Homo sapiens: one gene and its partners. The protein of the gene in region 3 interacts with the protein of the main gene of each other region in a biochemical or structural test. Each region holds a gene or a part of one and is shown on either strand. Other genes may lie near its edges. The genes, in order: RFFL, EHD3 and MICALL1.

The links.
Region 1: of the proteins of MICALL1 (region 3) and RFFL, one has a biochemical effect on the other in vitro, tested with the Homo sapiens proteins (one study listed by BioGRID).
Region 2: the proteins of MICALL1 (region 3) and EHD3 form a complex in vitro, tested with the Homo sapiens proteins (one study listed by BioGRID and IntAct).

Annotation. Positions count from the first base shown.
Region 1 is NC_000017.11:35,021,988-35,025,736, reverse strand, and holds part of RFFL (E3 ubiquitin-protein ligase rififylin), read left to right. Parts: intron 1-3,749.
Region 2 is NC_000002.12:31,244,083-31,247,831, forward strand, and holds part of EHD3 (EH domain-containing protein 3), read left to right. Parts: intron 1-191; coding exon 192-368; exon of another isoform or gene 369-770; intron 771-3,749. UniProt on the Homo sapiens protein: ATP- and membrane-binding protein that controls membrane reorganization/tubulation upon ATP hydrolysis. In vitro causes tubulation of endocytic membranes. Binding to phosphatidic acid induces its membrane tubulation activity.
Region 3 is NC_000022.11:37,937,227-37,940,975, reverse strand, and holds part of MICALL1 (MICAL-like protein 1), read right to left. Parts: intron 3,231-3,749; coding exon 3,184-3,230; coding exon of another isoform or gene 3,157-3,183; intron 268-3,156; coding exon 146-267; 3' UTR 1-145. UniProt on the Homo sapiens protein: Lipid-binding protein with higher affinity for phosphatidic acid, a lipid enriched in recycling endosome membranes. On endosome membranes, acts as a downstream effector of Rab proteins recruiting cytosolic proteins to regulate membrane tubulation.

The DNA of each region.
Region 1 (3,749 bases), on a different chromosome or scaffold from region 3:
GAGTTATCTGTGATCAAGCATGACTAGGCAGAAGGTAAACCCTCACCTGGATAAAGAACTCCTGCATTCTGCATTTTTCTGCAGAATGAGAGGTTTGCAGCTCAGAATAAGTGATAGGATATGATGTTAAAATGGTGATCATGGGAAATTTGAGAGGAAATCATACTTTTAAACCATCTGCTATGTGCAAAGGACTGTTTAAGGAATTTAAATTTTTTTATTTCATTTAATCCTCACAATAGCTATGATATAGGTTTTAGAATCTCCCAAATCCCATTTTACATATGAGAAACTAGGGCTTAGGGTTTAAAATTTAAGAAGAACATTGAATGTGTTAAATTCCTGACAAATAGCATGAGAGATATTAAAATACTCATTCTTTTCCCTTGACTTCAGTAGTGCTCAAGATCACATAGTTATTAAATGACAGAGCCGGGATTCAAACCCAGGTCCTTGATTCCAAAGCCCCTCCCAGAAGACATTCAGCATGTCGAGTAGAAGATGACAGTTACAGGCCTGGGTGCCTAGAAAAGCATGGCAATGATTAAAATAAGGTGCTTTTTTTCTTACTTATTGGAAAATGAATTACTGAATATCTACTGTGTATCAGGAATTGCCTGGGCTAGGGAGGCAGAGATGAAGAAGGCCATTGCTGCTTAACGGGGAGCTTGCAGTTGGACAGGGAGGTGAGGACAGTGCACACCATACGATGTGACAAAAGAAAAGTGTGTGTAACAAGAGCTTCTGGAGGGGAAGAAAAATTCCAGTTTGGATGGTAAAAGATGGTTATTGGTACAATATTTTCTTGCTACAATATTTTCTTGCTACAAAAGTATGAGTTAATTTTGTGCAATTTACAGTGAATTTTGTGAATATTAAGGGTGTTTTCATCTATGAGAATTTTTCATTTGTAATTTCATGCTTAAGTGGATCAGCATTCTTATCTTAAGGGTTTGGCATTTAACACCCAGGGGCTTTCAAAATGTCTTTTTCTAGAAGTGCTTGAATTGAAATGATTCCATGGATCCTACTATCTTTTTCTTTTCCTTATTCTTCATTATGGTCAGTACTTTCTGAATGCTTATTGGGTGCAAAGCACAGATAACATTCAGGACTTTATAGACAGAATATAAGTAAGATGTGGCCCTTGCATTCCCTGAGTTTTCAGTCCTAAAGAGAAATGGCAGGCTGTACTTTTGCCACAAGCCAAATACCCCATCTCTATTGGTAATACCTCCCTGTGGTTTAGCAGCGACCCTGACGGTTTTGGAGGGAGTCTGGCACCCAGCCTCTTTAGTTGGACCAGTTGGAGGATGAGGTTATGCTTGGAGCCATGGAAGTGATATTCAGATCTCAGAGTGTTAAGAGAGGACTGGGTCTTAGGTGCTGGTAAGGGGAAAGAAAAAGGTAACCGTGTTACCTTTTCTGGAGCATCCACTTTGTGCTAAGGTTTTATATACATTCTCTCATGTAATACTTCCCATATTCCAGGGAATAGGGTGGGAGGGAGTAGGAGCAAGGGAAGGGCAGTTGGCAAACGGGAGCCAGCAGAACCCTGCACACGGCATCCTTGAAGGGTGGTGTCGGCCTGAGGCGCCACGGCCAGTTCTGTGATGCTGGATATCTCAGTACACCCTGGGCATTTCTGCAGGCATGTTGGTTGCCTCCACTAATTCATCTTTCATGCTACCTGGTTACTGAGTTGTTTTGAACCATTCGGCAGAATTTATACATAAGTGTGTCCTTTGCTCATTCTGCCTGCATTTGTTGACAGCCCTTTTTTCCTTTCTTCTTGTTTTCTTCTGCCACTGCAAACTGGGGTTTTAGCCTCAAGCCCTATCCTGTTCCTGTAGGGTGTGTTTCAGATGCCAGCTTATTTCAGAGTTCCCTGTGAGCCAGCGGGTGCATAGAAGCTAGGTTGTTGTCTGCATTCTGATCTTGCATCCAGCAAGCCACACACATTTGAAGAAAGAATAGAGAGTTGTTTGGATCTGGCTGATTGAGCAACGCAGGCTTTATAATTGTGTCAAGCTAGGTCTTGTCAGACTGCATCGACTTAAGTAATATTCCATGTCAGGCCCACAGGTTTATGGCATTGAAGCCTCTTTGTTTCAGTCTCAGTCATCCTAAACAGACTTCATTTCCCAATAGAAAAGCTTTAGATGTGAATGAACCCCAAATACCTGAAAACATCCATTTTCTGCCTGCATGGCTACTGGTCCCAGAACCGTTACAATGCTAGTGCAGCCATGCATCCTTTTAAGTCCATCTCTGAACAGTATTGTTTGGTTATAACTGTATGGAGAATTAGGGAGCTTGATATATGTCCCTTTGCAATGCCTTCTAAGTCTTAATAGCCAAAACTGGGTGGTAAATATTATTTCCTTTTCCCTTTACTATGTGAATGATACTTAGACAAAACTTATATAACTATCTTAACTATGCAGACATTTACTTCAGCCCAGAGTGTCTGTGATCTTGACTATGAGAATCTTGTCTCTTGAGCTTTCTTTTTTAGCTTGAATATCTTTCTATATTTCGAAAAGATGGACCAGAAATATTTAAGTTACTACTTAAGTCAACACAGGATGAAAAGTTTTTAACTTCTTTAAAGGATTAATGAGGGTGCCCTCCAGGCCAATCCCAGTGTGCTCAGGAATTACCTCTCTTGTTGGGGATGTGACATGCTCTTGGCCAGAACAGAGCTCAGCCGGATGTCACTGTGCTCACTCAGCCTGTGGGGTGAGAGGCCGAGGATTGCTTCCTGTGGGCTGAGTAAGCCTTCCTGTGTTGTCAGCGACTGCCAGACTAGCTGCTGCCAGGCAGTACCAGCTTGCCCATCAGGCGCTCTTGTTGCCTAACTGAGACACTCTGTGCTTTCAGGAACGAGAGTACCCTGATGTCCAGACAGCCTCCCGTTGCTGTCTAAATATTTGTCTTGGATATGCTTGTAAGCACCACTGGGTTCCCAGCACTCTGAGTGGGCCTTCCTGGAGTGGGGAGCCTGTGTCGATGGAGCAGTGGGTGGGGAATTTGGAGATGGAAGCCAGGCCCTTGACTCAGAACTGCTCTGTACTTGAATGGAACTGAGCTATGCAGTATGGCCTGGTGGAAAGAATGTGATCATGGGCATTAGCCTCCAACAGACCTTGAGTGTGAATACCCGCTCTCCTGTTTATTGCCTGACCTTGAATACAACAGTTGATCTCCCTAAGCCTCGGTTGCTTTGTCTGTGAATCAGGGAAGAACACTAATACCTACTTTGCAATGTCGCTTTGAGAATTAAATGACAAGCTAGCATATAGAAGCACCTCAATAAATTAATATTAATTGTAACAACCACCACCACCATAACCTTCATGCAGAAATAATTACAGTTTAGGATTTGAATCCTGGCTGTCACCGTTAGGTAATATTTCCTAGCTATAATAAAACAGCTTACACTTGTTGAGGACTCATTTTGTGTTAGATATGCTAAATGGGTTCTCTCTTAATCTTCACAACAACCCCATGAGGTAGATACTGTTATCACCCCCATTTTACAGATGTGGAAACTGAGCACCAGAGAGGCTAAATTACACACCCAAGGTGATACTGCAAGAAATAAGGGAGGGAGGCTTAATAAAAATGCAGAGCTTTTTGATTCTTATGCTGGTAGTCTTAATTAATACCTCAGGTGCTTCAGGAGTAAATAAAGTAAGCCTCAAATTAAATAATAAATGTGAAGTGTCCTGTACATGGATATACAC
Region 2 (3,749 bases), on a different chromosome or scaffold from region 3:
CAGCTGAAATTCCACCTCCTCTACAAAGTTCTTTGGACTTGTTATCCAGCAGGCATTTCTCCCGGCCATGAGATCTTGCTGCGGTGGCCCTGCCCTCCCCTCTGACTCGCATGTTGTCTGCCTTATAGTAGACATGCCGTGTTGATCTTTGCGCAGAACGCCTGCATTAGGACTGTGCTTCTTCCTGCTAGGTACCTGCTGGAACAGGACTTCCCAGGCATGAGGATTGGGCCTGAGCCCACCACAGACTCCTTCATTGCGGTGATGCAGGGAGACATGGAGGGGATCATCCCTGGGAACGCCCTGGTGGTGGATCCCAAGAAACCCTTCAGGAAACTCAACGCCTTTGGCAACGCCTTCTTGAACAGGTGAGTGTGGAGGGAACACAACACTTTCAGGTGCTCTCTTTTCTTCTTGGGGTATGGGGAGTGAAAGAACAGTAGGCAGGGTCTTGGGATGCTTGGTGCCTAGAGTCTCCTGTCAATCTTTCCATACCTAGATTGTCCCTTGCTTGCTGAGAGTGTAACTGAGTCAGTTGTGAGATGCAGCAGCTGCAAATGCTGGGTTGATTCCTCCTTATCAGGGAGCAGGGAAGGATACAACAATGACTCAGGTCACATTCCCCTACCCTGCACCTACCCCTAGTAAAAGTGGAGGAGGATGCTCCATATAGTTCCCAGTATTTGCCTAAATATTCAGTGGCTGGGATTTGCATCCAACTGGAAGGAGGCAGACGAAGGTTCTTTTCTATTCACGGATATTGTTTCTACCTGGTGGGAAGAACCCTGGAATTAAGAGGGAAGCCTTGGGTTTGAGCACTAACTCTTCTACTAAATTGAATGACCTTGCACAGGTCACCTCTCTTCCCCCGGGACAAGTTCAGCCTTGCAGATACCAAGATCATCATGATGATGTGAATGGAGAAAGCTCTAGGAATGCTTGGCAAACTAATCTGGGCCTTCACATTAATTATTCTGTTTAACCAGAATGCAGGCTGATCCCCTGCTCACACTTATTACACTGATAAATCCAGTTTCACATGTGCATGGTAAATACTTTGAAAATAATTTTAAAACTACTTTTTCTAATTGGAGGTTTTTAGAGTAGAGGTAATGAATATGGGCTTTGCCTTCAGATAGACCTGGGTTCAAATCCTGCCTAATACTGTGGCTCTTGAACAAGTTACAAAACTTACTTGTTTCTAATTTTTCCCATCTGTAAATAGGATAATAGGAGTTAAAGGAGAAATAAGTGGGATAGTGAACAGAAAACACTTCGTGCCTGGCACATAGTAACCAACAGGTTAGTTAGTGATAGTGTTACTATGTCTTATTTCATTTGATTACTTAATTGTTTAGTGAATGGAATAGGCATCTGCTGTGGCCATTTTTCATTGTAGAAGTTGAGGCTCATTGCCCAAAGGATTCTCGATGTCTCTTATCCCAAATATATATATATATATATATATATATTTTTTTTTTTTTTTTTTTTTTGATGAGATGGAGTTTCACTCTTGTTGCCCAAGCTGGAGTGCAATGGCGCGATCTCAGCTCATCGCAAACTCTGCCTCCCAGGTTCAAGCAATTCTCCTGCCTCAGCCTCCCGAGTAGCTGGGATTACAGGCATGTGCCACCACGCCCGACTAATTTTGTGTTTTTTTTTTTTTTTTTTTTTTTTTAGTAGAGACAGGGTTTCTCCATGTTTGTCAGGCTGGTCTCGAACTCCCAACCTCAGGTGATTGACCTGCCTCAGCCTCCCAAAGTGCTGGGATTACAGGCGTGAGCCACCGTGCCTGGCCCCAAATAATATTTTTTATAAACCTATGAACTTGTCTCTGACCTTTCTTGTAGTGGCATGGAGTCAATAACAGTCTAAGACAGGGACAGGGAGACCACGACATGAATGAAATGTGGAACTGTGAGTGGCCAAGGTGTGCGCCCAGAGTAGGGAGCAGAGGAAGGGTCACGCTGAGAAATCTTGGGAACTTGGCCTGGCAGAGAGAGAGGCCCAGGCATGGGGCTTGGTTTATGTTGGGAATGAAGCTGAGGTCCCTTTAGGAAGAATGAGGAGGTCGTGGTGGTAAGGTGCAGTGGGGCAGGTGTCCTGGAGTCCAGGGGTGTCTCTTATACCTGGAACTGAGTAAGGAGGTCCTGGATGCCCAAAATGCTAAAATGCATAAATGGAGGGGGTGGGATGAGCATGATTCAGGAGAATGAGTCGCTGGAGCTGAAGAGAAGCAGGGATATCTGAGCAAGGGGGTAGGCAAGGAATTTGATTTTGGACACATTGAGTTTGCAGTGTTAGTGAGTCAGCTGAGGAGCATCGTCCTATCTGAAGGCAGAGAGGAGGAGCTGGACCCCAGGGGAGAGGAGGGAAAAGCCAGGGGGAGACAAGAGGAAACTGGGCTCATCACAAGAGAAGAGTACAGGTTTAGTGGTTAATGCCATTTTGGGATAATTGTGCTTATAATGATATAGTGTATTGTATTATATGTAATAGCATATAGCCTATTATGATAACAGAATTTAAGTGATTGCCATCATATGCTGGGTGCATTCCTGAGAGCTGAGCGCCCTTATGTCATTAATCAAACCCAGCAAGTCTCATTAACTCCATTGTTAAATGTATTGAAACCAGGTGGTGTGGGTGAGGTTGGGTGGGGGTGGTTTACTTTGAGTAAAGACACCTCTTTGAATATTATTATCTTCATCTAGAAAGTGATAAAATGTAAATAATCCATTCCTGCAAATGTTGTGTGTTGTGTGAAGAAGATCTGAGAGAGAAAGGAAAAAATATATAAATCTTTACAGTGGTTACCTTTTTTTTTTTTTTGAGACGAGGTCTTGCTCTGTCGCCCAGGCTGAAGTGCAGTGGCATGATCTCAGCTCACTTTAGCCTCCATCTCCTGGGTTCAGGCAATTTTCCCGCCTCAGCCTCCTGAATAGCTGGGGTTACAGGCATGCGCCACCACGCCTGGCTAATTTTTGTATTTTTAGTAGAGACAGGGTTTCACCATGTTGGCCAGGCTGGTCACAAACTCCTGGCCTCAAGTGATCCGCCCACCTTGGCCTCCCAAAGTGCTGGGTTTACAGGTGTGAGCCTGTAACCGGCCTACAGTGGTTCCATTTAGGAAGTGGAATTGAGCAGGGCAGAAGGATAGAGAAGAGGAACACCTTCCTATTTCATTTTATGCCTTGCTGGACCATGTTTTGGTTTTTTGTTTTGTTTTGTTTTTTGTTTGTTTGTTTTTTACCATGTGCATATATTTTACAAAAAAAAAAATTATAAAGAAAATATATAGGAAGGTGTTGTGAAACAAATAACATGCACATAAAAGGTGATACTATTAAGGGGTCAGGAATCTCTCTCTAAATCTGTGATTTCAATGAATAAAATGAAGGTGACTGAGGCAAGATCCTGCATTTCCAGAGTGACTTGGTGTCTGGCCTGGAGAGCAGACATTGACAAGGAAAGAAATGTGGCCACAGGAGGGGCTGTGTCTCCTGCCTCCTTCCCAGGTATCTTACTAAGGGATAGAATTCGTGTTTTATTTCAACAGACACCAGGCCCCTAGCGGCCTTGGGCTCTATTCTGTGGGGGAATATAAGGCTGATCCAGTCCAGTGGGCACAGGCTTGGAAAGAGCCAGTGATAACCCAGGCAAGAGGAAGAGCAGGCCTGACGAGGCCTTTGTGGGAAAGTTGGCATTTGACCCTGACATTAAATGATGAGTGAAGTGGCACCAACAGT
Region 3 (3,749 bases):
AGGAAGAGGCCATCACCCAGAGGATCCCTCCCCTTAGTCATCTTCCTCCTGACTGATCTGAGGGGAGCAGGGCGCCCCCTTCAAACAGAGCACAGCCCAGGAGCTGCTCCAGGAGGGGGCAGTCCCCAACTGGCTTCTCGTGCTGTTAGCTCTTGTCTCTGGGGGACTTGCTCTTGGCATCACGTTTGTTTCCTAGCAGTTTCAACATCTTCATGGTCTTGAACTTCCCCTTCTTCTTGCCCTCAGGTTCAGCCTCCCTCTGGAACTCTGCAGCACAGAGAGGGGAGCACTTAATAAAGTGGAGAAGAGGGGTACATCCAGGGCAGGCTAGACCCAGTGACACAGGCCTGGGCATGGGCAGCAGGGCTCAGCCCAGCCCCACCACTTCCTGTGTGGAGCCTGGGAGGGACAAGACACTCACCTTTCCCAGCCTCTGTCTCTTCACCTAGAGGATGGGGCCCATCCTCCCCCTCCCCACCTCCAGTGTTTGGGGAAAGATCAAGATGGTCAGCACATGTAAGAGCTCTGCTGAATCCGGGAATTCTTTTTTTTTTTGAGACTGAGTCGCTTTGTCGCCCAGGCTGGAGTGCAATGACGCGATCTTGGCCCACTGCAACCTCCGCCTCCCGGGTTCAGGCGATTCTCCTGCCTCAGCCTCCCGAGTAGCTGGGACTACAGGCAGGTGCCACCACGCCCCGGCTAATTTTTGTATTTTTAGTAGAGATGGGGTTTCACTGTTAGCCAGAATGCTCTCGATCTCCTGACCTCGTGATCCCCCCCGCCTCAGCCTCCCAAACTGCTAGGATTACAGGCATGAGCCACCACACTCGGCCTAGAATCCAGGAATTCTGAAGCATGGCATCCATTTATCTTTTTCTTTTTCTTTTTTTTGAGACAGAGTCTCTGTCGCCCAGGCTGGAGTGCAATGGTGCGGTCTCAGCTCACTGCAAACTCTGCCTCCTGGTTCAAGAAATTCTCCTGCCTTAGCCTCCCAAGTAGCTGAGATTACAGAAGTGTGCCACCACACCCAGCTAATTTTTGTATTTTTAGTAGAGACGGGGTTACACCATGTTGGGCCAGGCTGATCTCAAACTTCTGACCTCAGGCGATGAGCCCGCCTCAGCCTCCTAAAGTGCTGGGATTACAGGCGTGAGCCACCGTGCCTGGCCCCACTTATCTTTTTTTTTTTTTTTTTTTTTTTTGAGACGGAGACTTGTGCTGTCGCCCAGGCTGGAATGCAGTGGCACGATCTCGGCTCACTGCAACCTCTGCCACCTGGGTTCAGGCGATTCTTCTGCCTCAGCCTCCCGAGTAGCTGGGATTACACGCAAGCGCTGCCATGCGCGGCTAATTTTTGTATTTTTAGTAGAGACAGGGTTTCACCATGCTGGCCAGGCTGGTCTCGAACACCTGACCTCGTGATCTGCCGGCCTCGGCCTCCCAAAGTGCTGGCATTACAGGCGTGAGCCACCGCGCCTGGCCCCCATTTATCTTTAAAAGGCTGGATTCACCCAGGCTGGTGCCCACAGCTCTGTTACTTACAACACAAACGCTGTCAGAGCAAGAGAAACCTTCAAAATCATCTGTCTGAGCCCCTAATTTTATAGACAAGGAAAATGTAGGCCTTTGAAATTGACTAATACCAACTGAGCCCTTTGTAGGGCCAGGGCCCTCAGCTAAGTTTTACACATTATCTCAGTAATCCCAGCACACACCTGTGAGGGGGTGCCATTTTCACCCGCATTCTGCAGATATGAAGAATGAGACCAGAGTGGTAGAGTGGCCAGCTCAAAGTCACCCAGCTCATAAGTGCCAGAGCTGGGACTAGAACTCAAGTAGTCTGACTTGGCCTGAGTCAAGACCTAACCACAAGGCCACAAAGTGAGGTACTGGTAAAACCAAGACCAAAACCCAAATCCTGGCCAGGAACACTGGCTCACGCCTGTAATCCCAGCATTTTGGGAGGCCGAGGTGGGCAGATCGCTTGAGGCCAGGAGTTCGAGACCAGCCTGGTCAACATGATGAAACCCCGTTTCTACTAAAAATACAAAAAAATTAGCCAGGGCCGGGCGCAGTGGCTCACACCTATAATCCCAGCACTTTGGGAGGCCGAGGCGAGCGGATCACTTGAGGTCAGGAGTTCAAGACTAGCCTGGCCAACATGGCGAAACCCCATCTCTACTAAAAGTACAAAAATTAGCCGGGTGTGGTGGCAGCTAATCCCAGCTACTGAGGAAGCTGAAGCAGAATTGCTTGAACTTGGGAGGCGGAGGTTGAGTGAGCTGAGATCGTACCACTGCACTCCAGCCTGGGTGACAAAAGCAAGACTCTGTCTCAAAAAAAAAAAAAAAAAAATTAGCTGGGTGTGATGGCATGCGCCTGTAGTCCCAGCAACTCAGGAGGCTGAGACAGGAGAATTGCTTGAACCTAGGAGGCAGAGATTGCAGTAAGCCAAAATCACACCACTGCACTCCAGCCTAAACAACAGAGTGGGACTCTGTCTCAAAAAAAAAAAAAAGAAAAGAAAAAAAATCCTTTGACTTACAGTCCAGTACTTTTTTTTTTTTTTTTTTTGAGACTGAGTCTCGCTCTGTCACCCAGGCTGGAGTGCACTGGCGTGATCTCGGCTCACTGCAAGCTCCACCTCCCGGGTTCACACCATTCTCCTGCCCCAGCCTCCCGAGTAGCTGGGACTACAAGCTCTCGCCACCACGCCTGACTAATTTCTTGTATTTTTAGTAGAGACGGGGTTTCACCGTGTTAGCCCTGATGGTCTTGATCTCCTGTCCAGTACTCTTTTAACTGTTTCAAGCACCACTTGGTCCCCAGGAAGCACTGCTATTTGGGCCCACGGACTCCAACAAAACCAGCTGCAGATCTCAAGGGGGAATGCACAGCTGAGGGCAAATCCACCCTGGGAAGATGCCTCCCATATACCACAGTCGTCTCTGTAGGCATCAGGGCATCCCACGGCTACCCTCCAAGCCTAAGCCACAGCCTTCCTGGCTGTATGCTGGCCTCTCTTGCTACACACAGCCCTCTCTGCACAACAGAGGCTGCGGAGTTTGTGCACAGCCATCCTGGTAGTGCCCACTCCAACCCTCCCTTCAACCAGTCCCTCCCTTCCAACCCCAATGCCGAAGTTCAAGTGCTCACCAGCCTCATCCCCAGCAAGGGCCTCACCTTTCTTCTTGATCATGGCTTCCAACATCTTGTCTTCCTCTTCCTCCCTGAAATAAGCAGCAGCAGTTAAGCTGGGCGTGGTGGCTCACACCTGTAATCCCAGCACTTTGGGAGGCCAAGGTGGGTGGATCACCTGAAGTCAGGAGTTCGAGATCAGCCTAGCCAACATGGTGAAACCCCATCTCTACTAAAAATACAAAAAGTAGCTGGGTGTGGTGGCTCATGCCTGTAATCCCAGCTACTCGGGAGGCAGAGGTAGGAGAATCGCTTGAACCTGGGAGACAGAGGTTGTAGTGAGCCGAGGTTATGCCATTGCACTCCAGCCTGGGCAACAAGAGTGAAACGCTGTCTCAAAAAAAAAAAAAAAAAAAAAAGCAGCGGCAGCTGAGAGTCCTACGGGAGGAAGGAGCAGATGCCCTCTCTGTCCACACAGGGCTGAGCAACGGTGCACTGGGATCGCTGGTAGGAGGGCAGGGCTGGCCTGGCCTGAGGCGTGGACTGTGTCTTTGGCTCTCCAGGGAGCTGCCCCACCCATGAGGCCCAGAGCCTGACCTGCTCTGGCCCTG